2 separate regions of the Homo sapiens genome follow, and region 2 is linked to region 1. Evidence: fine-mapped expression QTL. A gene starts in region 1. The other region holds a variant in brackets. All regions are shown on one strand. Distances are from middle to middle.

The links.
Region 2: its variant is fine-mapped to the expression of LMCD1-AS1 in nasal epithelium (TOPMed, PIP above 0.99).

The regions. Positions count from the first base shown.
Region 1 is chr3:8,498,267-8,509,653 of GRCh38, reverse strand. It overlaps LMCD1-AS1 (LMCD1 antisense RNA 1), which reads left to right and starts at 7,996. Exons shown (of 4, transcript NR_033378.1): 1 at 7,996-8,183; 2 at 10,805-11,104. LMCD1 (LIM and cysteine rich domains 1) reads right to left here and starts at 7,831. Exons shown (of 6, transcript NM_014583.4): 1 at 7,674-7,831. The coding sequence starts at 7,715. RefSeq lists enhancers at 9,310-10,243, 10,244-11,177.
Region 2 is chr3:8,604,662-8,616,653 of GRCh38, reverse strand. It overlaps LOC107986009 (a long non-coding RNA gene), which reads left to right and starts at 4,711. Exons shown (of 5, transcript XR_001740420.3): 1 at 4,711-4,796; 2 at 5,295-5,426; 3 at 7,062-7,597. RefSeq lists enhancers at 4,214-5,094, 5,095-5,976. The variant T/A (reference allele first, on the strand shown) is at 5,812.

The DNA of each region.
Region 1 (11,387 bases):
AGACTCACAGAACACTGACATTATTTGGCCTGTCTCCTGCCTTATGAAAAATAAATTCTACCAGACTCAAGTTTACTTGGCAGGGATCAAAGCTTTCCTATTCATTGTCATGTATTCAGTACTTAGCACAGTGGCTGGCACATAACAGATGCTAAATAAATATTTGCTATATAAAGAAATGAGTGACTGTTGCCCTATCTTATAAGCAAGACATTGGAGGGAAAGACTGGTAATGGAGCAGGGGAGGGCTGCTATGGAAAGGGTAGCGACCAAACACCCAAGACGAATTGTGGCTATTCTCATGATTTTGCAATGTGATGTGGCCTGAGTATATTTATGGCTAGGTCCAAGTTTAACTACAAAGAGAAGGTCCTGCAGTCTGAGAGCTTAGAAGCCCCATGTGATGTAGGTAAACTGAATTTGGTCTTCCACATCCCAATACTTAATAACCTATGGGATTTTTGCATCATGCTGATGAGAGGGGGTATCCATAACAGCAGGAGGAAATGTTTATCAAGGGTATATTATGTATCCAGGCACTTTATGCACTTTACCTCATTAAACTATCGTTTAAATGTAGAACTACGGTGAGCTATCTTTCTCAAATGAGGAACCAGAGGTCCAGAGAGGATCAGTAACTTGGCGAAGTTTGCAGACCTGGCAAATTGAAGAGCTGCAGGTCACATCTAGATCTTTGTGCTTGCAAATGTTGTGTGTTTAACGGCTCCTCGAAGTGGCTTCTGGACCTTGTGGCCAAAGCTAAGTTCACAGCCAAAATGTCCACCTGAACTTCTGAGTTTCAAGGTATGAGGTTGACACAAAACTGGGATACTCTGGGGGTGGAAGTGACAGAATACAGCAGACACTCTTTTCTCCTTCATTCATAAAAGATGCTGTGAGTCAATGTATCTTGGTTGTGGCACCACTCATGTAAATGTAAGTTTGTAAATTTCAGATATGCCATTTCTTATGTAAAGTTCAGATGTGCCATTTTTTTCTTTGTAAATTTCAGATATGCCATTTCTCCCCCTGTCCCATTTGTGACATGAAGGGGTTGAATGAGCAGATAACAAGATTCTGCTCAGCTCTTTTAGACAATGGCTCATTAGCCTTTGTCTCCAGAGATAAATTTTACAAAGGATTCAATATTTTTTAAACAGGAGGAGGAGACAAAATCTATACACAAAGCATGTGGATTTGAAACAGCCACCTTGAGTTGGACACTGGCACTCCTTTGTCCTTCAATAGAGTTACTTGCCAAATGGAGCCTTTGTTTCTTCTCCCTTAGCAATTATATTTCCTTTTAAAGCATGTCCCGGTGGGGGCCCAGGCCATGTTTGGCTTGGTCATGATTTATATATTATTGGGTAGGCCATGGGTCAGGCTGACTAGACATGTAGAAATGCACATGTCAAGGCCAACCTTATCCCCAGGGCAGAGTTTCCTGAAAGCTCTGGGACAAGGTCTCTAGAATTATTTTTAGAGTATTAGGATAACATGTATTATTCTTTAAAAGGTCTCTCTACTAGTCTTCTGCCGGGAGATGTCCATTAGCCTTCTGGAAAACCAGGAGAAATCAAGAAAGTCTTTATTCTATACCCGAGAAATGGCTCTGATTTGGTGTAGGTGACAGTATACTCCTGGTGGTGACCAAGAGATATCAAAGAGATACAGGTGCCTAGCAACATTTTGCAAATGCTGGGAAGCTTCTGAACCAGACTATCAATGAGTTCAGTGGGCTGGAAGAAATTGATCTGTGTATGAAAGTCACAGTAATAATCATAGTCCCTCCTCACCAGATTTCTGCTTTCTACGAATGCCTTCTGTTTCTTGCAGAGTGAAAAGAACTGAAGTTTTGGAGTCAGAGAGGCCTGAGTTTGAGTTCTTAATCTGTCATTATGTGACCTTAGACAAGTCGTTTCAAACTCTTAGTCTTAACTTACTCATGTGTAAAAAAGGACACCAATATTTTTGCATGGTAGTCCTTGAAGCTAAAGAGCTAACACACAGGAAAATGTCAATCATCTCCGGACCCTTAGAGATGTCTTTCCTTCCTCTCTTTTGCCTAGCCCCAAACTTGCCTGTCCTAACAGAGAACAAGTCTGTTGGGAGGCAAGAATCCAAATAGATAATAAAAGTAAGAACAGACTCCTTTCTCTTTTCTGAGAAAAAAATGTAAAAGGGTTTGCTTCTCATACAGAAGAGCAGATATGAGACAAGGAGTTGATTTGGGAGTTTCACAAAGCACTACAATTGATTTGTCTCTTCTGTTTTTGTGAAAACACAATTTCTGCATCAAATATACAGGATTAGATACTAAATTTGTGTTTCAGCCACTAAAGGAGCCTTGGTGAACACAGGAGACTCAACTTCATATGTAACTCTTTCTATAAAAGTTTTATAGAGAGCATTTTCTAGAGCTTTTGCAGATCTATGCTATTGCTATATGTAAACATCCAACAATGGTTTGGGACACACCAATTGTTCCACGTGGATTTAAGGAAATGTTGTGCTCTTGAAGGAGTCCTGCAAAAGTGGCTGGTGGCCCTGCACCTGGTGAGACAGTAGCAGCTGCTGGCCAAATCCTCTTCCTGTTATCAAATGGTAGGGGATATGAGGATATTTCTAAACGAAGGCTCTTCAAGAGCAACAGCTGTCTCTTCATTTTGGATGTCCTGAAAAGCTGCTCCACAATTCCGCTTTCAGTGGAACGAAGTTTTAAGCCTATTTTGTCATAATCATTTGTTATTTGGGAGATGATCTGGTGTAAAGGAAAAGTCAGTGGGCTGGAGGCAGAAGGAACCCTGGTTCTCATCCAAATTCTGCCACTTCCTAGGAAAGGTGACCTATCCAAAGTCACCCAGTGAGTAAACGCCTGCAGTTATTATAATGACTCACGCCCCTGCCAGAAATCTGTTCTTAAAATAAAGATTTAAATGGTGTTGGATGAATGGTTGGGAGATAAGAGCTCTCAAGGTCTGTTACTTATCAAGGCAAATCTCCACTTTATGAGACACAAACTATTTTGAATGTGCAAGCTAAAAAGAGGACGATTTGCCTTCCTAAAGTCAAATTGAATACTTCTCCTGGAGCCCTGTCAGCTCTAGTGAGTTGCGAGAGGAACTATTCCCTTACTTCTCTACTCTTTACCTTTTCCTCTTGGGAAGTGGCCTGCGTAAGGGCGGAAGGAAAGACACACACAAAAGCCTGTGTGCAGCCCCTCCTTCCTGGTCCCCAGCCTTTGCTGAATTCAGCCTATTCTTTTTTCATCCTTGTCACCTTTGGTCAGTTAGCATGAAGAGAGGATCAAACCAAGCATCCTCAGAGGGGAATGCCAAAGTCATTTTTCCACTTTCCAACTCGTAGGAGTGTTGGTAAGCTCTGAGCAAATTCCTAGCCTTGGAGCTGAGATGCTTAGATTAAAGCCTGAAGATAATCTGATGAAGCTCTTTCCTGCCTCCCACTACCACAGTGGCAGATACATTGGTGAAAGTCAACTGTCAGCCCCCAACTCCGCATAGTCAGACACACCTGCAGCTTAGGACAAAAATCTGCAATTCACAAAGTAATGGTTTCAGCATCTGTTTTTAGAAAGCATGTAAAAGGGACTTGGATAATTTCTGTTTTTAAAAAACAAGGCTCTATTATGGCAAAAAAGTTGCTTATACACCTATGGGCATGTCTCCAATGTCTTGGCTATTAAGGTCTTTAAGTGACAGTTTAATATGTTTTTAAGATTGAGAGAGCCAACGACAATTCACGAGGAGCTGTGTTTACATTGGATCAGCTCACCCGGGTGATGTGCCAGTAGTTTGGCACACTGCAGGAAGTGGAGGTGAAAGCAGGAAGGGCTGAGTACAGAGGGAAGGCCTAGCCTGAAGGACAGGAAAGCCAAGAGGGATGTGATGTAGAGAAGCATGGAGAGAGACATCCAGGTGGACCTGGCAATGGACTTAGAAGTACCATCATTTAATGCCCCTTGGGCATTGTGTTGAGGGGTGAGAATTTCTAATTGGATCCCTCTGGAGCCAGCCCACTGGTGACTGCACAGTCAACTATGAACAGGTTCCTAGCTCTCTTTCTTCTAATCCCTTCTAAATTCCTACAGATGGTTCCTTGACAGTCAAGGGGTCTGTATTCTTGCAGAGCCTAATAGGCTTCAGTACATTTTCTCTGCAACTTCTGATAAGGAGCTTGATCCCTCTGGGCCTCAGTTTCCTTATCTAAAAAGTAAGGCACTCCAAGTCCCCTTCGAGGCCTAACATTATATAACTCCAAAGTGAAATGCTCAATAACTGGCAATCCATGTTCAGAAGGAAAGACTGTTCCATGTAAGCAGATTTTGCACCCGTTGGGTGAGAATGAAGGCAACAGCATTTGGTCATTGTCTTAGCTTGTCAAAGCTGAGCAATGGCTTAGGTTCAGCTGAATGAAAGTTAGGTGCTCTTCAGATGGGGCAGTTATAAATAAAAGTGTCCTCATTCACCAGAAAATTCCTTTCCGCATCCATGCACCCACTGAAATGTACCGCCACCACCAAGGACTGCCATGGCTAACTCTGAGTGCCCATATGCTGAGCCTTTTATGTACATCATCTCACTTAATTATCACAGCCATCTTGGGAGGTAGATGCTGTTACTGTTTCTTCAACTTTCAAATGAGGTGAGGATACTGACTCAAAGTTAATTAGCTTGCCCAAGAGCACACAGCTAGTAAGTGGGGGAGCTGGGACTTAAACCAGATCTGAAGCCAAAGCCTGCACTAATAACTTGCATCCTTAATAAACAAGAACAAATCCATAGTCGAGATTGGTTTCACCCAGAAAAATGGCATTTGGCCTTCAAGGCCCTTTGTTACCAAGAAATGTTGGCGATTTCACCATTCTCAGGGAACTGTCTGTGCTAGGAAACCTTCTCTTTCCTAATAGAAAAAAAAAGATGGTTCAAGAGCAGCCGGTGGAAGCATTTTACTTAGAAAGAAAGAGAGAAGTTAGGGAACTTGTAAGCTCTGCCACGATGTATGTATGTGGCCCCCAGTGAGTCTCTTTCCCCAGCCTGTCTGGGGTTGGTTAGATGACCTTTAAGTCTACTCCAGTTTTTAGATTTTATGTTCTTTGCTGAAGATCTTTTTATGACTTTCCAGTTGGTGGGGATTCCCGCCCCAGCCCCCTCGGGGGTAGGGAAGCGGAAACAGCCTGTATGCCATTTTAAACCATTTCTCATTTTGTAAATAGGCCCCTTGTAGCTCTAAGAGTCTATGAAATTGTTTCAAAATGTCTAAGTGCGATTATGCATCCTGAAGCCAAATGTTATAAACCTCCCCCACATACTGTTGCAGATTTAAAAAATAAATATGCAGTAAAAGCTTTTCAGCGTGTTGCTGATATCACGTAGTACTTAATCACTTCTGTGACATTCAGTTCAGCAAGGGGAGCTTCTCGGCTCTCCTCCCTCCCCTCCACATTTTGAGTTGAAGGCATTGGTTAACCTACAAAATGGTGATCTTCCTCCTGATTGTCGCAGTCCCAAGAGATAAAAAAAATCTGCCCTTTCATCTCTACCCACCACATTCTTTCTCTAAGCCTGTAATTGGATCTAAATGGAAAACAAACCCTTTGCAGGCCAAGGAAGTTGGCACTAGGGGGTGACAAGAAGGAGAACATGTTCCACCTCTAATCAGGATAATCACACTCCCCTATGCAAAGGAAAATAAAAACAAGGCTTCCTCCAAGTGGCAACACAGGACTGTGGTGAGGAGGAGGAGTCTCCATATACCTCATCTCACCTCATACAGTAACTATCAACCAGCTTATATTAAAAATACTCAGAATCATTTCACTTTCCAGAGGACAATGGAACTCTGCCACCTTTAGCCGTGAACTATTCTGTGTCTGAACTTGGGGAGGCAGTTCAGACACACAAATATCAATGCTACAAGTTAAAAAATAATGCATAAAATGAAGCCTATGCAAACAGTGTGGTCTTAGCTGGACAGATATTCTCATGAGTCACCCACAGGTTTTTGAGTCCTGCTGTGTGGCATGGTGTGCTATGTTCAAACAGGGATGAACAAGACAGGTTTGCCCTCAAGGAGTCCAGAAAAATGTATAGAGAAATAAGAGCATTGCATGCATAACTCACTACTAGGTAGCAATTAATAGGTATCTTCTAAGAGTCTAAAATGTTATGGTAATTTCTGTAGGAGGGGAAATGACTTGATTCTGCAAATAGCTTGGCAAATGCAGTGAGGCATGATACATTCCAGACAAATGCCCAGATTCAATGTGACTTGGTACCCACATTTAGAAGGATCCACTGGACTCTGTGACAGGGTCTGGGCAGGTGGTCTACAGAAGAGCACAGCTACAAATTAGACAGTGCATGCTGTGCCTCTGAGTGGCTGTTTGTGTCTTTAGTTTGATTCTCACGTCTTTTGTTTTTCCCCCTCTCATTCTACCCTGCAGGTTAATGGCAGATATTTAAGGAAGACTTTGCCCTTCAAGACTAAACCCTGTGAAATCAGAGTTTAACAATGACTGCTTTGGGAAATTAACTCACAGTGTCAGTATCCCTGCTACCACTGCCATGAGGGAGGTTAGGCCTATCCTCCCCACATCAGAGACAAGGAAACTGAGGCTCAGAAAAGTGACCTGGTGAATCATGTGCAGTTAAAAAGTGGCAGGGACTGAGTCTGGATGCCTAGGGCTTGCCTTACAGTCAGCTGCCTGTTAGAACCAACTCTCTGTGACCCCGGGCCTCAGTTTCCCGATCTGTAAAGCCTAGGTTGTCTCTCTGTTCCCTTCCCGTTCACATGTTCTCTAAGTCTCCAGCCTGTGCCTTCTCCCAGCTGCATTCAGGTAGGCAACAAGTGGTATTGGAGCTATAGGCACAGCCGCAGGCTCCTGTGCAGGAGTTTACCCATGACCTTCTGGGCTCCGGGCCAGCCCTTCTTGTAAGGGAAACGTGCAGACCCTGGGGACAGAAATCAGTTCCCTTATGCTGGAACTGCTGCCACTGCCAACATCACCAACTAAAGAAACTGCGTGCGTGTGTGTGTGTGTGTGTGTGTGTGTGTGTGTGTGTGTATTGGGGGAAACACACAAAACACTGGGATAATAGCAAAAGGGAGACTGTGAGTAAATATTACATGCTCTCAACCCTTACTTCAGCCACCTGAGGACAGGGAGTGAGGAAGCTAGGGGTTTTTCCTTTACAGACCATAAGATTTCATATATATATATTATATATTATATATATTTTATATATAATATATATTATATATATTTTATATAATATATATTATATATTTTATATATAATATATATTATATATAATATATATTTTATATATTATATATAATATATATTATATATATTTTATATATATATTTTATATACATTTTATATATATTGTATATATATGTAAAACCTTAATTAAACTTTAACTAGCATCACCAAAGACATAAGACCCTTTGCAAATATTTTACACAACATTGGGTTTGGGGTGTGTGTGCCTGTTAGCTCAAACATGTATTCCCAACTATTTGTTTTCCATGCAGTTTTGGAATTTAAAGAGTTCCCTTCTCATTACCTTTTGGGAAGTTTCCGCGAACAGATGGGAAGGGGAACAAGAAAAAGTAAGAATCTGGGTAAATACAAACAGCTTTCCACTCACCTTTTTAACTCCTGGGTTGAGGTCCTTAGCCACCTTTGCCATCCTCTTCTGGGGTGGGGGAACAGCGCCTGGCTTCTCAGGCAGAGGCGCGAGGGCGCGCAGCGGGGACAGCGGCGGCTGAATGGCCAAGTTCGCGGGCCTGGGAGGGAGCTCTGTGCGCAGCCAGGCGCAGCTGGGCCGCTTTAATTGGAGAGCGGGACTCCCTCTAAAACCTCGCCAGCCACTCCGCGCCGGCGCTCGCGCGAGGCCAGCCAATCCCAGCGCGAGGCTGTCCCCCTCCCTCAGGGAGGTCTCTGCACTGTGGCAGCGAGCGGAGCTGAGCGCCGGCTGCCCTGACGTCAGCATGGCCGCGGCCCCTGACTACCCAGCTCCCTTCTATCCCTCGAGCGGCAGGAATCCGTCCCCACGCCCTTTTCCTTTAAAGGGCAACGGGCCGAAGGTGGGGCGGGCGGCGCGGCTCCCGCGATCCATTCAGGTCAAAAGGGAGAGTGATCAAACAGGAGAGCCGAGGTATTTTTAGTGAGCTGGATCCAGAAATAAATGCTGAGCTGTGCTCCCCTTCCCACCCTTTCTGCCTGGTCGTAGGGGGCGCGGGGAGGGCTGAGGGAGGAGGTGTTTTGCAGGAGCTGGCTAACGTTTCCCAAACCTGGGCGAGTTCTCCAATATCCAGAGAGGAGAAAAGATTCCAGCGAGTTATGATTTTTTTAAACTTAACGTTCGTAAAGTATTAAACTGCTTTCTTATAACTTGCTTTAACATAAATCCTTCTTATTCCATGAGCAAGAAATCACTGTCCTGATCTTAGAGATGCTCCTGTGGACATACTGTCTTGTTGTATGCTCATATTATCTCAGATATTATTATTATTATGACTGTAAGACGATAGATGAGGAAATAATCAGAATAACTGGTCCACAGCTGAATTACTGAGCAAGGCTTTAACCTGAGAGACTGAGAGTAATAGAGAGAAAGCTCATGGGGGCGTGGCGGGGGGGGGGAGGGAGGCGGCGGGCACAGGATTGTAAACTATAAACTAGGAAGTTAGTAATTTTTAGATAAATGGGGTCATGCAGGCCTGGACAAACAAGATTCCATCTGAGTTCACAAATCCATGGAATGTGGAGTCCTTGCAACGCATAACATAACTACTCTTATAAGACAGAATTGGCCAGGTTCCTCTCTCTATGCCACGTTGTTTGCCTATAAAGCCACATCTCTCTGCTGAGCCGGTTCCACAGACTTGGATTCCAGAGGCATTTCCCCCCTGCCCTGACAGAGGATTAAACACAAGCCCTTTTTATCCTAGAGAGAATACTGCTGTCTCTGTTGTGAGGTGTTCGGCCTGTAACCCGTCTTTGCAGTGCCCCCTGCCAGAAAAACCAGGGTCCCGTGGGCTAAAATAAAACTCGGTTGCACAGAGACTGAAGAGTGGTCCCGAAGTACACCATTCGGGAGGGATTTGGTGAGAAGGGGAGGCTGCAGTTCCCACTGTGGGGCTGTCTCTTGCTGGAGGCTTTTTCCTCTTGAAAGCCTCCTCCAATTTAGTTCTTATCATCATCTCCAGTCATCCCAAATCTCAGCCAGGGATCCTGAATTGTGACTTTTTATTACATATTCCTGGAAAGGGCTTTTTGTGGCTTATCTTTTCCAAGATGAGGGATGACCTATTTCTTTTTTCACAGATTTCTGCTATAATTGATTTTTGCCTTGTTTGCTCCCAGCTATGTCCTCAAACACCTAGCATGTGGTATAGGCACAGTACACATTTGGCAAATGAATAGAGGTTGGGTTCTGGCTTTTATTTTTTTTATTGATACATCATGATTGTACATGTGGTATTTTGATATATGCTTACAATGTGTAATGATCAAATCAGGGTGTTTAGGATTTCCATCACCTTGAACATTTATAATTTCTTTGTACTGGGAACATGTCAAATCACTTTTAGCTTTTCTTTTTTTTTTTTTTTTTTTTTTGAGACAGAGTCTCGCGCTGTTGCCCAGGCTGGAATGCAGTGGCGCGATCTCGGCTCACTGTGACCTCTGCCTCCCAGGTTCAAGTGAGTCTCCCACCTCGGCTTCCCAAGAAGCTGGGACTACAGGCATGAGCCACCATACCTGGCTCATTTTTGTATTTTTAGTAGAGACAGAGTTTCACCATATTGGCCAGGCTGGTCTTGAACTCCTGACCTCAAGTGATCCTCCTACCTTGGCATCCCAAAGTGCTGGAATTACAGGAGTGAGCCACCGCACCTAGCCTCTTTTAGCTATTTTGAAGTATACAATTCACTGTTGTTGACTATAGTCACCCTACTGTGCTGTTGAATGCTAGACTTTTTCTTGCTATCAGACAGTGTTTGTTCGCATTAACCAACCTCTGTTCATCCCCTCACACCCCAGCCCACCATTTCCCAACCTCTGGTAACCTTCTTCTACTCTCTACCTCCATGCAGTAAGCAGGCAAAGTAAGAATAGGGAGAGATGGTGCAATGGCACACCTGGCCTGGTTTGTCCAAACTTCCAAGGTAGGCTGCATGTTAAACCAGTATGTAAATAAACAGTGGCCAACAGAAGCCTGGCCTGGGAGAGGAGGTTTCCACATGAATAGTCCTTTCAGTAGCAAATCCTAGGAACAATAGTGCTAAATCAGGATGTCATGCCAGAAGCCTTTATATTTTAGAGCTGTGGGAACAGAAGCCAGGAATATAACAAAGGCAAGCTTTATCCCTTTCAAACGAGGCAAAAGCCTGCCCAGTGAAGTCATTTCCCACTCCCTTCCCAGCCACCCTCCTTGCCCCATCTTGAAAAATCATTGTTCCATGAAATAATACTAATTTTATTAAGTTAACACTATTTATTAATAGCTCCAACCACAAGAGTCTCTCCCCCTCCTTATTTTTACCCTTGGCTCCAGGTACAATTAAGGAGGCAGATATTGCAGCTGTTTCTCAGAATTTCTCAGAACACGAGTGTCAGGAGCTGTTGCTTGGGGTGGCTCATTCCCTTCTTTCTGGAAAAAGACCTGCTGTAGGCAGAGAGGGGATCCCTGCTATCTGCTAGAAGTTGCTGTCTCCTCAGCTGAGGATTCTGACTTTGACACTTTAAACCTTACACTTGACCCTCTTGTTCCAGGGGACCTATATTCAGAGACTTAACCGGACACCTGGACAGACCATTACAACTTGGGACTTTTCAGGAGAATGAGGGAAATGTAGTTATTGCACCTGAGCCTCACTCCAGCTCTGAGGTCCTCTTCACTTCTCTTTGGAAGAAAATTGGATATCTTTTCCTAGTTGAAAGAGTAGAGATCTGATTTCTCCAAGGATCATCGCTTTTTGACACGGGATTATTAGAAGCATTCATTCATCTATCAAGGAGTTTTGGGATACTTGCCATAAGCCAAGCCCTCTGATAGGTGCTGGAAACATCAAGGTAAATAAAAGAGTTCTTCTCCTTGGAGAACATATTGGTCTAATAACTACTTCTGGGGCTCCCTGGTTGACAGAGCCCTAATCTTACTTGAACTCCAAGACAACTAGTCTCAGAGAAAACAGAAATCCCAAACAGTCCCAGGGCTGTATCAAAGGTCATACAGCTGGCAAGTGGCAGAGCTGAAATTTAAATTCAGAGTTTTTAACTTCAGATTGCACCCTTTCACCTATACTGCACTGCTTCCATAATGATTGCAGATGGTTGATTATAAGCAAAACAGGAA
Region 2 (11,992 bases), 110 kb before region 1:
TTGTAGATTCTGGATATTAGCCCTTTGTCAGATGAGTAGGTTGCGAAAATTTTCTCCCATTTTGTAGGTTGCCTGTTCACTCTGCTGGTAGTTTCTTTTGCTGTGCAGAAGCTCTTTAGTTTAATTAGATCCCATTTGTCAATTTTGTCTTTTGTTGCCATTGCTTTTGGTGTTTTAGACATGAAGTCCTTGCCCATGCCTATGTCCTGAATGGTAATGCCTAGGTTTTCTTCTAGGGTTTTTATGGTTTTAGGTCTAACGTTTAAGTCTTTAATCCATCTTGAATTAAGTTTTGTGTAAGGTGTAAGGAAGGGATCCGGTTTCAGCTTTCTACATATGGCTAGCCAGTTTTCCCAGCACCATTTATTAAATAGGGAATCCTTTCCCTATTGCTTGTTTTTCTCAGGTTTGTCAAAGATCAGATAGTTGTAGATATGCGGCGTTATTTCTGAGGGCTCTGTTCTGTTCCATTGATCTATATCTCTGTTTTGGTACCAGTACCATGCTGTAGTACTATACAGTACTATACTGTAGCCTTGTAGTATAGTTTGAAGTCAGGTAGTGTGATGCCTCCAGCTTTGTTCTTTTGGCTGAGGATTGACTTGGTGATGCGGGCTCTTTTTTGGTTCCATATGAACTTTAAAATAGTTTTTTCCAATTCTGTGAAGAAAGTCATTGGTAGCTTGATGGGGATGGCATTGACTCTGTAAATAACCTTTGGCAGTATGGCCATTTTCACGATATTGATTCTTCCTACCCATGAGCATGGAATGTTCTTCCATTTGTTTGTATCCTCTTTTATTTCCTTGAGCAGTGGTTTGTAGTTCTCCTTGAAGAGGTCCTTCACATCCCTTGTAAGTTGGATTGCTAGGTATTTTATTCTCTTTGAAGCAATTGTGAATGGGAGTTCACTCATGATTTGGCTCTCTGTTTGTCTGTTGTTGGTGTGTAAGAATGCTTGTGATTTTTGTACATTGATTTTGTATCCTGAGACTTTGCTGAAGTTGCTTATCAGCTTAAGGAGATTTTGGGCTGAGACAATGGGGTTTTCTAGATATACAATCATGTCGTCTGCAAAGAGGGACAATTTGACTTCCTCTTTTCCTAATTGAATACCCTTTTTTCCTTCTCCTGCCTAATTGCCCTGGCCAGAACTTCCAACACTATGTTGAATAGGAGTGGTGAGAGAAGGCATCCCTGTCTTGTGCCAGTTTTCAAAGGGAATGCTTCCAGTTTTTGCCCATTCAGTATGATATTGGCTGTGGGTTTGTCATAGATAGCTCTTATTATTTTGAAATACGTCCCATCAATACCTAATTTATTGAGAGTTTTTAGCGTGAAGGGTTGTTGAATTTTGTCAAAGGCCTTTTCTGCATCTATTGAGATAATCATGTGGTTTTTGTCTTTGGCTCTGTTTATATGCTGGATTACATTTATTGATTTGCATATATTGAACCAGCCTTGCATCCCAGGGATGAAGCCCACTTGATCATGGTGGATAAGCTTTTTGATGTGCTGCTGGATTCGTTTTGCCAGTATTTTATTGAGGATTTTTGCATCAATGTTCATCAAGGATATTGGTCTAAAATTCTTTTTTGGTTGTGTCTCTGCCTGGCTTTGGTATCAGAATGATGCTGGCCTCATAAAATGAGTTAGGGAGGATTCCCTCTTTTTCTATTGATTGGAATAGTTTCAGAAGGAATGGTACCAGTTCCTCCTTGTACCTCTGGTAGAATTCGGCTGTGAATCCATCTGGTCCTGGAGTCTTTTTGGTTGGTAAGCTATTGATTATTGCCACAATTTCAGCTCCTGTTATTGGTCTATTCAGAGATTCAACTTCTTCCTGGTTTAGTCTTGGGAGAGTGTGTGTGTCCAGGAATTTATCCATTTCTTCTAGATTTTCTAGTTTATTTGCGTAGAGGTGTTTGTAGTATTCCCTGATGGTAGTTTGTATTTCTGTGGGATCCGTGGTGATATCCCCTTTATCATTTTTTATTGCATCTATTTGATTCTTCTCTCTTTTTTCTTTATTAGTCTTGCTAGTGGTCTATCAATTTTGTTGATCCTTTCAAAAAACCAGCTCCTGGATTCATTAATTTTTTGAAGGGTTTTTTGTGTCTCTATTTCCTTCAGTTCTGCTCTGATTTTAGTTATTTCTTGCCTTCTGCTAGCTTTTGAATGTGTTTGCTCTTGCTTTTCTAGTTCTTTTAATTGTGATGTTAGGGTGTCAATTTTGGATCTTTCCTGCTTTCTCTTGTGGGCATTTAGTGCTATAAATTTCCCTCTACACACTGCTTTGAATGCATCCCAGAGATTCTGGTATGTTGTGTCTTTGTTCTCGTTGGTTTCAAAGAACATCTTTATTTCTGCCTTCATTTCGTTATGTACCCAGTAGTCATTCAGGAGCAGGTTGTTCAGTTTCCATGTAGTTGAGTGGTTTTGAGTGAGATTCTTAATCCTGAGTTCTAGTTTGATTGCACTGTGGTCTGAGAGATAGTTTGTTATAATTTCTGTTCTTTTACATTTGCTGAGGAGAGCTTTACTTCCAAGTATGTGGTCAATTTTGGAATAGGTGTGGTGTGGTGCTGAAAAAAATGTATATTCTGTTGATTTGGGGTGGAGAGTTCTGTAGATGTCTATTAGGTCCACTTGGTGCAGAGCTGAGTTCAATACCTGGGTATCCTTGTTGACTTTCTGTCTCATTGATCTGTCTAATGTTGACAGTGGGGTGTTAAAGTCTCCCATTATTAATGTGTGGGAGTCTAAGTATCTTTGTAGGTCACTCAGGACTTGCTTTATGAATCTGGATGCTCCTGTGTTGGGTGCATATATATTTAGGATAGTTAGCTCTTCTTGTTGAATTGATCCCTTTACCATTATGTAATGGCCTTCTTTGTCTCTTTTGATCTTTGTTGGTTTAAAGTCTGTTTTATCAGAGACTAGGATTGCAACCCCTGCCATTTTTTGTTTTCCATTTGCTTGGTAGATTTTCCTCCATCCTTTTATTTTGAGCCTATGTGTGTCTCTGCACGTGAGATGGGTTTCCTGAATACAACACAGTGATGGGTCTTGACTCTTTATCCAATTTGCCAGTCTGTGTCTTTTAATTGGAGCATTTAGTCCATTTACATTTAAAGTTAATATTGTTATGTGTGAATTTGGTCCTGTCATGATGATGTTAGCTGGTTATTTTGCTCGTTAGTTGATGCAGTTTCTTCCTAGTCTCGATAGTCTTTACATTTTGGCATGATTTTGCAGTGGCTGGTACTGGTTGTTCCTTTCCATGTTTAGCACTTCCTTCAGGAGCTCTTTTAGGGCAGGCCTGGTGGTGACAAAATCTCTCAGCATTTGCTTGTCTGTATTTTATTTCTCCTTCACTTATGAAGCTTAGTTTGGCTGGATATGAAATTCTGGGTTGAAAATTCTTTTCTTTAAGAACGTTGAATATTGGCCCCCACTCTCTTCTGGCCTGTAGGGTTTCTGCCAAGAGATCTGCTGTTAGTCTGATGGGCTTCCCTTTGAGGGTAATCCGACCTTTCTCTCTGGCTGCCCTTAACATTTTTTCCTTCATTTCAACTTTGGTGAATCTGACAATTATGTGTCTTGGAGTTGCTCTTCTCGAGGAGTATCTTTGTGGCATTCTCTGTATTTCCTGAATCTGAACATTGGCCTGCCTTGCTAGATTGGGGAAGTTCTGGATGATATCCTGCAGAGTGTTTTCCAACTTAGTTCCATTCTCCCCGTCACTTTCAGGTACACCAATGAGACGTAGATTTGGTCTTTTCACATAGTCCCATATTTCTTGGAGGCTTTGCTTATTTCTTTTTATTCTTTTTTCTCTAAACTTCCCTTCTCACTTCATTTCATTCATTTCATCTTCCATTGCTGATACCCTTTCTTCCAGTTGATGGCATCGGCTCCTGAGGCTACTGCATTCTTCACGTAGTTCTCGAGCCTTGGTTTTCAGCTCCATCAGCTCCTTTAAGCACTTCTCCGTATTGGTTATTCTAGTTATACATTCTTCTAAATTTTTTTCAAAGTTTTCAACTTCTTTGCCTTTGGTTTGAATGTCCTCCCGTAGCTCAGAGTAATTTGATCATCTGAAGCCTTCTTCTCTCAGCTCGTCAAAGTCATTCCCCCTCCAGCTTTGTTCCGTTGCTGGTGAGGAACTGCGTTCCTTTGGAGGAGGAGAGGCGCTCTGCTTTTTAGAGTTTCCAGTTCTTCTGTTCTGTTTTTTCCCCATCTTTGTGGTTTTATCTACTTTTGGTCTTTGATGATGGTGATGTACAGATGGGTTTTTGGTGTGGATGTCCTTTCTGGTTGTTAGCTTTCCTTCTAACAGACAGGACCCTCAGCTGCAGGTCTGTTGGAGTACCCTGCCGTGTGAGGTGTCAGTGTGCCCCTGTTGGCAGGTGCCTCCCAGTTAGGCTGCTCGGGGGTCAGGGGTCACTTGAGGAGGCAGTCTGCCCGTTCTCAGATCTCTAGCTGCGTGCTGGGAGAACCACTGCTCTCTTCAAAGCTGTCAGACAGGGACATTTAAGTCTGCAGAGGTTACTGCTGTCTTTTTGTTTGTCTGTGCCCTGCTCCCAGAGGTGGAGCCTACAGAGGCAGGCAGGCCTCCTTGAGCTGTGGTGGGCTCCACCCAGTTGGAGCTTCCCGGCTGCTTTGTTTACCTAATCAAGCCTGGGCAATGGCGGGCGCCCCTCCCCCAGCCTCGCTGCCGCCTTGCAGTTTGATCTCAGACTGCTGTGCTAGCAATCAGCGAGACTCCATGGGCGTAGGACCCTCCAAGCCAGGTGGGTGGTGCACCGTTTTTTAAGCCCGTCGGAAAAGCGCAGTATTAGGGTGGGAGTGACCCGATTTTCCAGGTGCCATCCGTCACCCCTTTCTTTGACTAGGAAAGGGAACTCCCTGACCCCTTGTGCTTCCCGAGTGAGGCAATGCCTCGCCCTGCTTCGGCTCGCGCACGGTGCGCGCACCCACTGACCTGCGCCCACTGTCTGGCACTCCCTAGTGAGATGAACCCGGTACCTCAGATGGAAATGCAGAAATCACCCGTCTTCTGCATCGCTCACGCTGGGAGCTGTAGACCGGAGCTGTTCCTATTCGGCCATCTTGGCTGCTCCCCCACTTCCTTGCTTTTTTAAGGGATCCCTTCAGGTACTAACAATGGCAAACATTTATTAAGCTTTTCCCAAGTTACAGGCACTATTCTAACCATTTTTCAAGGGTCAGACCCTAAGTCTTCACAACAAGCTTATAAAGGAGGGGCTGTTTTTATCCCCGTTTTACAGATGAGGAGACGGAAGTCCAGAGGGTTTCAATCGCTTGCCCAAAGTCACAGAGTCGGGAAGTGCAGAGCCAGGCCACTGCCTGGTTTTAAATTCTGGGTGGAAATGCAACGTGCCGGTCAACATGGTGTGCTGGTGAGTGTGTTATCCTCAGCGGTGCCCAGGGCACAAATGTGCAGACCAGCTGACAGCAACAGCAGGCTCCCCTTTTCTCCATCAGGAACTGTCAGAGGAGGCTGGGTAAGGAGAGCAGCTTGGCCGCCTGGGGCTGCAGCTGGGAGGTCCCAGCACAGCAGCTGCTGGGTGAAAGTGGGTTGTTCTTCTTCAGTAGGAGTTGTGGGCCCAGGTTGCTTTGTTGCCGAGGCCAGCTTGGCCTCTTTGCAAGTAATTGGTAATTGTGCCATTGCACTTCCGCCTGGACAACAGAGTGAAACCTTATCTCAAAAAAAAAAAAGAATTAATAGTAATAACAATTACTGAGTACTTGGTATGTGATATGGTTTGGCTCTGTCCCCACCCA[T/A]ATCTCACCTTGAATTATAATAATCCCCATGTGTCAAGTGTGGGGCCAGGTGGAGATAATGGAATCAAGGGGGCAGTTTCCTCATACTGGTCCCAGGTAACCTCTTTAGCCACACCTGAGAGTAGAAACATCTTCAGTTTGGAAGGCAAGTAAGGGTCCTATCCACAGCTTCCTGCATGTGATCATTGCTCAGGGCAAGGTGACCAGTAGAGCCCTGGGTGAGCCTCCCCTCTACCAGTCATTGTGCGACTAGAATTACTTACAATGCATATTATGCAAGATATGGTGTATGTAGTACATACACACACACAACATGTATATGATTAATTGTAAAACAACTTTTGCCTTTGAATAAATCTTAGCTAAGCCCCACCCTAGCCCTGAGACCATCTCATCAATCTCTGCGAACTTAGTCTGCTCATCTGCAAAATGATCGTATTAAGAGTACCTACTCCTCCCAGACCTGTTGTGAGGACTAGAGATACGTAATTAACGGAAGGCTCTTAGAACACAGCCCGGCACATACTGTATTAATCTGTTCTCACTCGGCTAGTAAAGACATACCGGAGACTGCGTAATTTATAAAGGAAAGAGGTTTAATTAACTCACAGTTCCACATGGCTGGGGAGGCCTCACAATCATGGCAGAAGGCAAAGGGGAAGCAAGACATGTCTTACATGGCAGCAGGTAAGAGGGCATGTGTTAGGGGAACTCCCATTTATAAAACCATCAGATCTCGTGAGACTTATTCACTACCACGAAAAAGAGTGTGGGGAAGCTGCCCTCATGTTTCAATTATCTCCACCTGACCCCACCCTTGACATGTAGGGACTATTACTATTCAAGGTGAGATTTGGGTGGGGACACAGCCAAAAACCATATCACATACTAAATACTCAATAATTATTATTACTACTAATTCATTTTTTTGAGATAGGATTTCACTTTTGTCCAGGCTGTAGTGCAATGGCACGACAGGGCTCACTGTAGCCTCAAACTCCTGGACTCAAGCAATCCTCCTGCCTCAGCCTCCCAAGTAGCTGGGATGACAGGTGTGTGCCACCAGGCCCGGCTAAGTCCAATGTCACATATTGTCATTATTACTGTTACTTTTACAGTGTGGAGTCATTGTGGGACTTAGATGCATAAATGAAATAATTCCTCGCACAAAGTAAGTGCTCATTAAGGGGTACTTTATATTTTTGTTGTTATTACAAAGTTCTTTCTCCCTCATTTAATCCCCACCCCAGATGTGGAGGAAAGCTGGGATTCCTTTTCTCATTTGAAAAATGTTGAAACAGATGGATATAAAAAAAGCAAAATGTCTTGTTCCACGTTTCCAAAAGAGGAAGTATGAAAGGCGTAATTGAAATTCAAAACGTTTGGTCTGAAAATCCTACATCCTTTCTCCTAACAACCGTGAATTCTTACTAAAGGATAAGGCATTAAAGCCTTTTTTGAACCATCTTTCTCTTATGGAGGAACACAGCCTATTAAACCACACCAGCTACTAACTGCCTGCTAGGGTCTGAAAGTGTCCTCCCAGCAGTCATGTCTCCAAGGTGATGGCATTAGGACGTGGGGCCTGTCGGAGGTGATTAAGTCACTAGAGTGGAGCTCTTATGAATGGGATTAGTAACAACTTTCCTAAGAAGAGGCCAGAGAGCTAGCTCTTTCCACCAGGAGAGGATACAGGAGAAGTCAGCCATCTGCAACCTGGAAGAGGGTCCTCACCAGAACTCAACCATGCTGGCACTCTGATCTCGGACTTCCAGCCTTCAGAACGGTGAGAAATGAATTTCTGTGGTTTATGAGCCACCCAGTCTATAGTACTTCAATATCAAAGCCCAGACAGACTGAGACACTGCCTGTTTACACAATTCTATTCCACCTATCGTTTCAGTTTCGTACTTTTAGGAGTCCTTTGAGGCCCGTCTCTTTTGAAACCCATTTCAAAGATGAGAAACCTGAGGTTCAAAGAGGTTGAGCATCCTGCCCAAAGCCATGCAGCAGGTTGGGCCGGACCAGGGTCTTCTGTCTTCTGGTTCTCCAGTATGGAATCAAAGAAAGAGTCCCTTTAAATCCAGAGGAGGCTTGGGGTATGCCAAGAAGCACCCAGTGCCTCCACAGAGCAGGCTTCGTCCTTCTCCGTCTTCACCTCCCTGGCCACCCTGGCAGTCCCAACTGTGCATAAGGGCCAGCCTCTCACTGTGGCCTCCACCCCGTCTTGTAATCGGTGCCTCCTGGTGAACTTGCCATGCCTTAGAACCCATCGCTGCCTCCCTTTCACTGCACAGTCTCGGTGTGAACCTTCTGAGTGCGTCTCCCAGCACTGGACCCTGCAGCCTCTGAGCCCCACTTCCACACTCTCATGTCAGACCTGCCAGCAGGCAGTCACCTGTACATGGTATGGCTGAGCCTGAGATCTCGCCTCCCAACACACAGCTGGCTCTAGACGGGCGGGACCATTCAGAGGCAGACAGAGGGAGGTGTGTAGGGGTACAGAGGACAGATAGATGTCACTGACCCCACCAACAAATAGTGAAACAGCAGAAGGAAAACATAGATGTACACGTGGGCATTAGGACACTTGGTCGAAAGTAACGGAAACCCAACCCACGCTGGGTGAAGCAGTTTACTGGCACACAGAACCGACAAGTCTGGTGTAGTTCTGGCTCTGGGCTGGGGTGTTCCCAGAGGTTCAGGCAATGTTGTTGAACATGTTTCTTTCTACCTGTCTCCTACGTTTCCCTATCCTGCTAATGGCAAGAGGTACACCCTTAGTTTCAGGCTGGCTATGACTTTCTCAGCATTCCTGCAGCCAAGAGCTCATGACTTTCCTGGTTGCTCTACAAAAGGCCCCAGGACTGAGACTCCTTGGGCCAAACACCCTGGCTTGAGCCAGCCTAACACCAGTCTCTATGGCCCTGTGCTGAAATAAGCTGATTATCCAGGCCCAGGTCCAGGGGATGGGAACTGCCCCATCAAAACCCATCCTGGTTGAGGAGAGGGCAAACCCCGCTTCCCGCAGGAAAATTCAGGTGCCATTTCCAGAAGCGGAGGGGAATCCTGGCAGCAAAACCACCAACACCCAGGGCAGTGTTTATGCACACACTGGACACCGGGTGTCCCCAGCCAACCACTTTCCTTGTAAGACTGCAAGCTTGGACCTGTTTAATGTCACATGTGAACCTGATAAGAAACCAGGCTGGAGGGTTTCCTCTGAGGATGCAAGGGCTGGAATGGAGATTCTCTGTCTAGACTGGACTGAGTTCTTTCTGAAACTGGGCAGGACACTCAGGCTCCCAACTTTCCTTCCTTCCTGGTGCCCCCAGCAGCCACTGCTGATCGCCCTGCCTCACAGTCAGGGAGGCTGTTGAGGAAGACAAGATGCCTGTTATTTCTAAGGGACATACTCTCTCCAGGTGGTACAGAGTGCAGACTCTCCCCTGAGAAAAAGAGAGTGAATGAGGACAGCCCGGGCTGCAGAAGCCAGTGTGGTCTGCCCATTGGGCAGCAATGGGCAGGTGGCGTTGGCTCTGTGGTCATTGGTGGGCACAGGGAGTCCAAATTCTTGCAGGGGAACAAATCCAATCTGATTTTACAAACATGACAATCTTCCTGGCTCGAAGCATCTGGTTATTCTTCTCATTCCTCCAGCTTGGCTCAGAGAAAGTTTTCTCAAAGAAGGATCCACTCAGCGGCTGCCCCTTACAGCTGCAGAAAATCCTCTTTAGTTTTGCCCTGAAGCAGATAGCTGCAGATGCAGCAAACCATCCATGAAGAGATGGGATTTATATTGACAGACACATGTTTATCCAGATCAATTAGGGAAAATTATTTTTGCAACACTCCTCAAACAAGGTTTGGCAGCTAATAATCAGTTTGAGTCGTGCAATGTGAATGCCAAAAATGTGAGATGAGATGAGAAAGCTACGTGCTAGATTGCCTCTCGGGAGAGCACTGTCTGGCCGGGAAGAGACACTGTGGTGATCCTCTGGCACAGGGGGCAGGATGCTCTCTAAATTACTCTGCATAATTAAGGAGAGATAAGTTTGACATCGGGAAGGGAGTGATTGGATTGGGCAAACTGACCACTGTGTGAAGGAGTGGCAGGAGAGAGAGAGAAAGCCAGCACTGCAGAGAAGGGCCTGGGGAATGCCCATGCCCATGTGCCGGGTGGAGAACTTTCAAGGGAGATCTTGGGTGCAGGGTGACATGGACCTGCCCACGTTGTCAGGGGAAACTGTTGAGAAATCCTCAAATGCTTGGTGGATGAATCTTTTCTTTTTGCTTCTCTGGATCCTCTCCGGACCCCTCTCCACTCTAGACTGGGCCCTGGGAGGCTGTCCTGCATGGACCTCCTTGCCCTCTGGCTTTTTTGAGGGTTTGGCCAATGGGGAGCACAATACCCTGAATGTGTCCCACCAATATTCGTAGGTTGAAATCCTAACCCTGAATATGAATGCACTTTACTTTGGGGAGTAATCAGGTCATGAGCATGGAGCCTTCATGAACGGGATTAGTGCCCTTATAAGAAGAGATGCAAGGGTTTGATCTTGCTCTCTACTCTCCATCACTTGGGGATACAACAAGAAGGTGACCATCTGCAAACCAGGAAGCAGGCCCTTCCTAGACACCAGATCTGCCAGCACCTTGATCTCGGACTTCCAGCTTCCGGACTGGGAGAAATAAATTTCTGTTGTTTATAAGGCACCTAGTCTATGGTATTCTTCTGTAGCTGCCCAAACTGCCTAAGTTGGGGGCTTTACTTGGCTTTGGCCAACAAGGAGCTTTCATTTAAGCCTGGGAGGGAGAAAAGTGAGGCTGGGGATACTAGTTTCCCTATCCCCCAACTGCTGCATTGCCTTGGGCTGGTTGGGTCTCTCGACAGAAGACCTCAGCCGTGATGGAGCGGCCTTTCTCCACAGCCTTCTCTGTCTCCTGGTTCCTGAAGCTGCTCCTTCCTTGGCCCCTGCTGTTAATAGCTCTAGGGAGTCACATAATCCCTTGGGGTTTCTATAAGCCTTGCCCATACCTTGACAAAATTTCCCTCCATTGAACACACCCCCAAATAATCCTGGTTTGAGTGAGATGGCTGTTTCCTGCTAGGACTCTGACAGACCCACTTGGGATGAGTGCTTTTCTCATGGAAGCCAGTCTAGGACATGCGTTCTGGGTCCTGGGTGAGCGGCTGAGCAGCAAGTTCACACTAGGGAAGAGTTGGCTTGTAGGTTAAAGCAAACACATTTGGGAGCTGTCTGGGAATATCCCAGCAGCCTGGCTGCCCCTTGAAGCCATTCCCGTTTGCAACTCCAAACTTCGAGGCTGAGTGGGGGAGGGATAGCATTAGGAGAAATACCTAATGTAAATGAAGAATTAATGGGTGCAGCAAACCAACACAGCACATGTATACATATGTAACAAACCTGCACGTTGTACACATGCACCATAGAACTTAAAGTATATAAACAACAACAACAACAAAAATCTACATACTTCAGTGTGAAAAAAAAATATCAGAGCAGTCCCAGGAGCTCACCCAGGCTAGGGCCCCTTAGGCCATTATGGAGAGGTCTTTCATTAACTGAGACTGGGAACAACTAGGATCTGAAGACACAGAAGGTAGGAGATTGAGAACTGCTGATGTGACCATTTTGCTGATGTGGAAACTGAGGTTATAAGAGGTTCAAGGTCACAGGTCAAGTAGACAGCAGCATTGAGAAAGCCATAGAAACGTAAAAACATGCCTTGGTCCGAGATCAGATGCTGAGCCCGAGTGTTTATAGGCCATGTCTAGGCAAGTCAGCTAGGAGGGTTCTGGGGTGCTGAGATTGAAAAGATGTTTCTCTGTTTTTCTGATTACAAAAGTAATTCAGATTCATTACAAAATATTTTAAAAATATGGCATAAAGTAAAAATCACCCAGAATCTTACCACTTAGACACAACTCATATTTACCATATTTCCTTCCAGGCTTTTTTCTTCAATATAGCTGCAGTCATTCCCTTCTTATAACTTTGTTTTCTACATTTTTTTCTTAGCATTATGAGTAAGCATTCTTTGTAAACGTGATTTTTAGAACTTCCTTATTTTGTCACATAGATTGCCATAATTTGTTTATATAACCAACTCGTAATCATTCCCATAATAGTGGCATTTACTTTTTTGGTCTCTAATT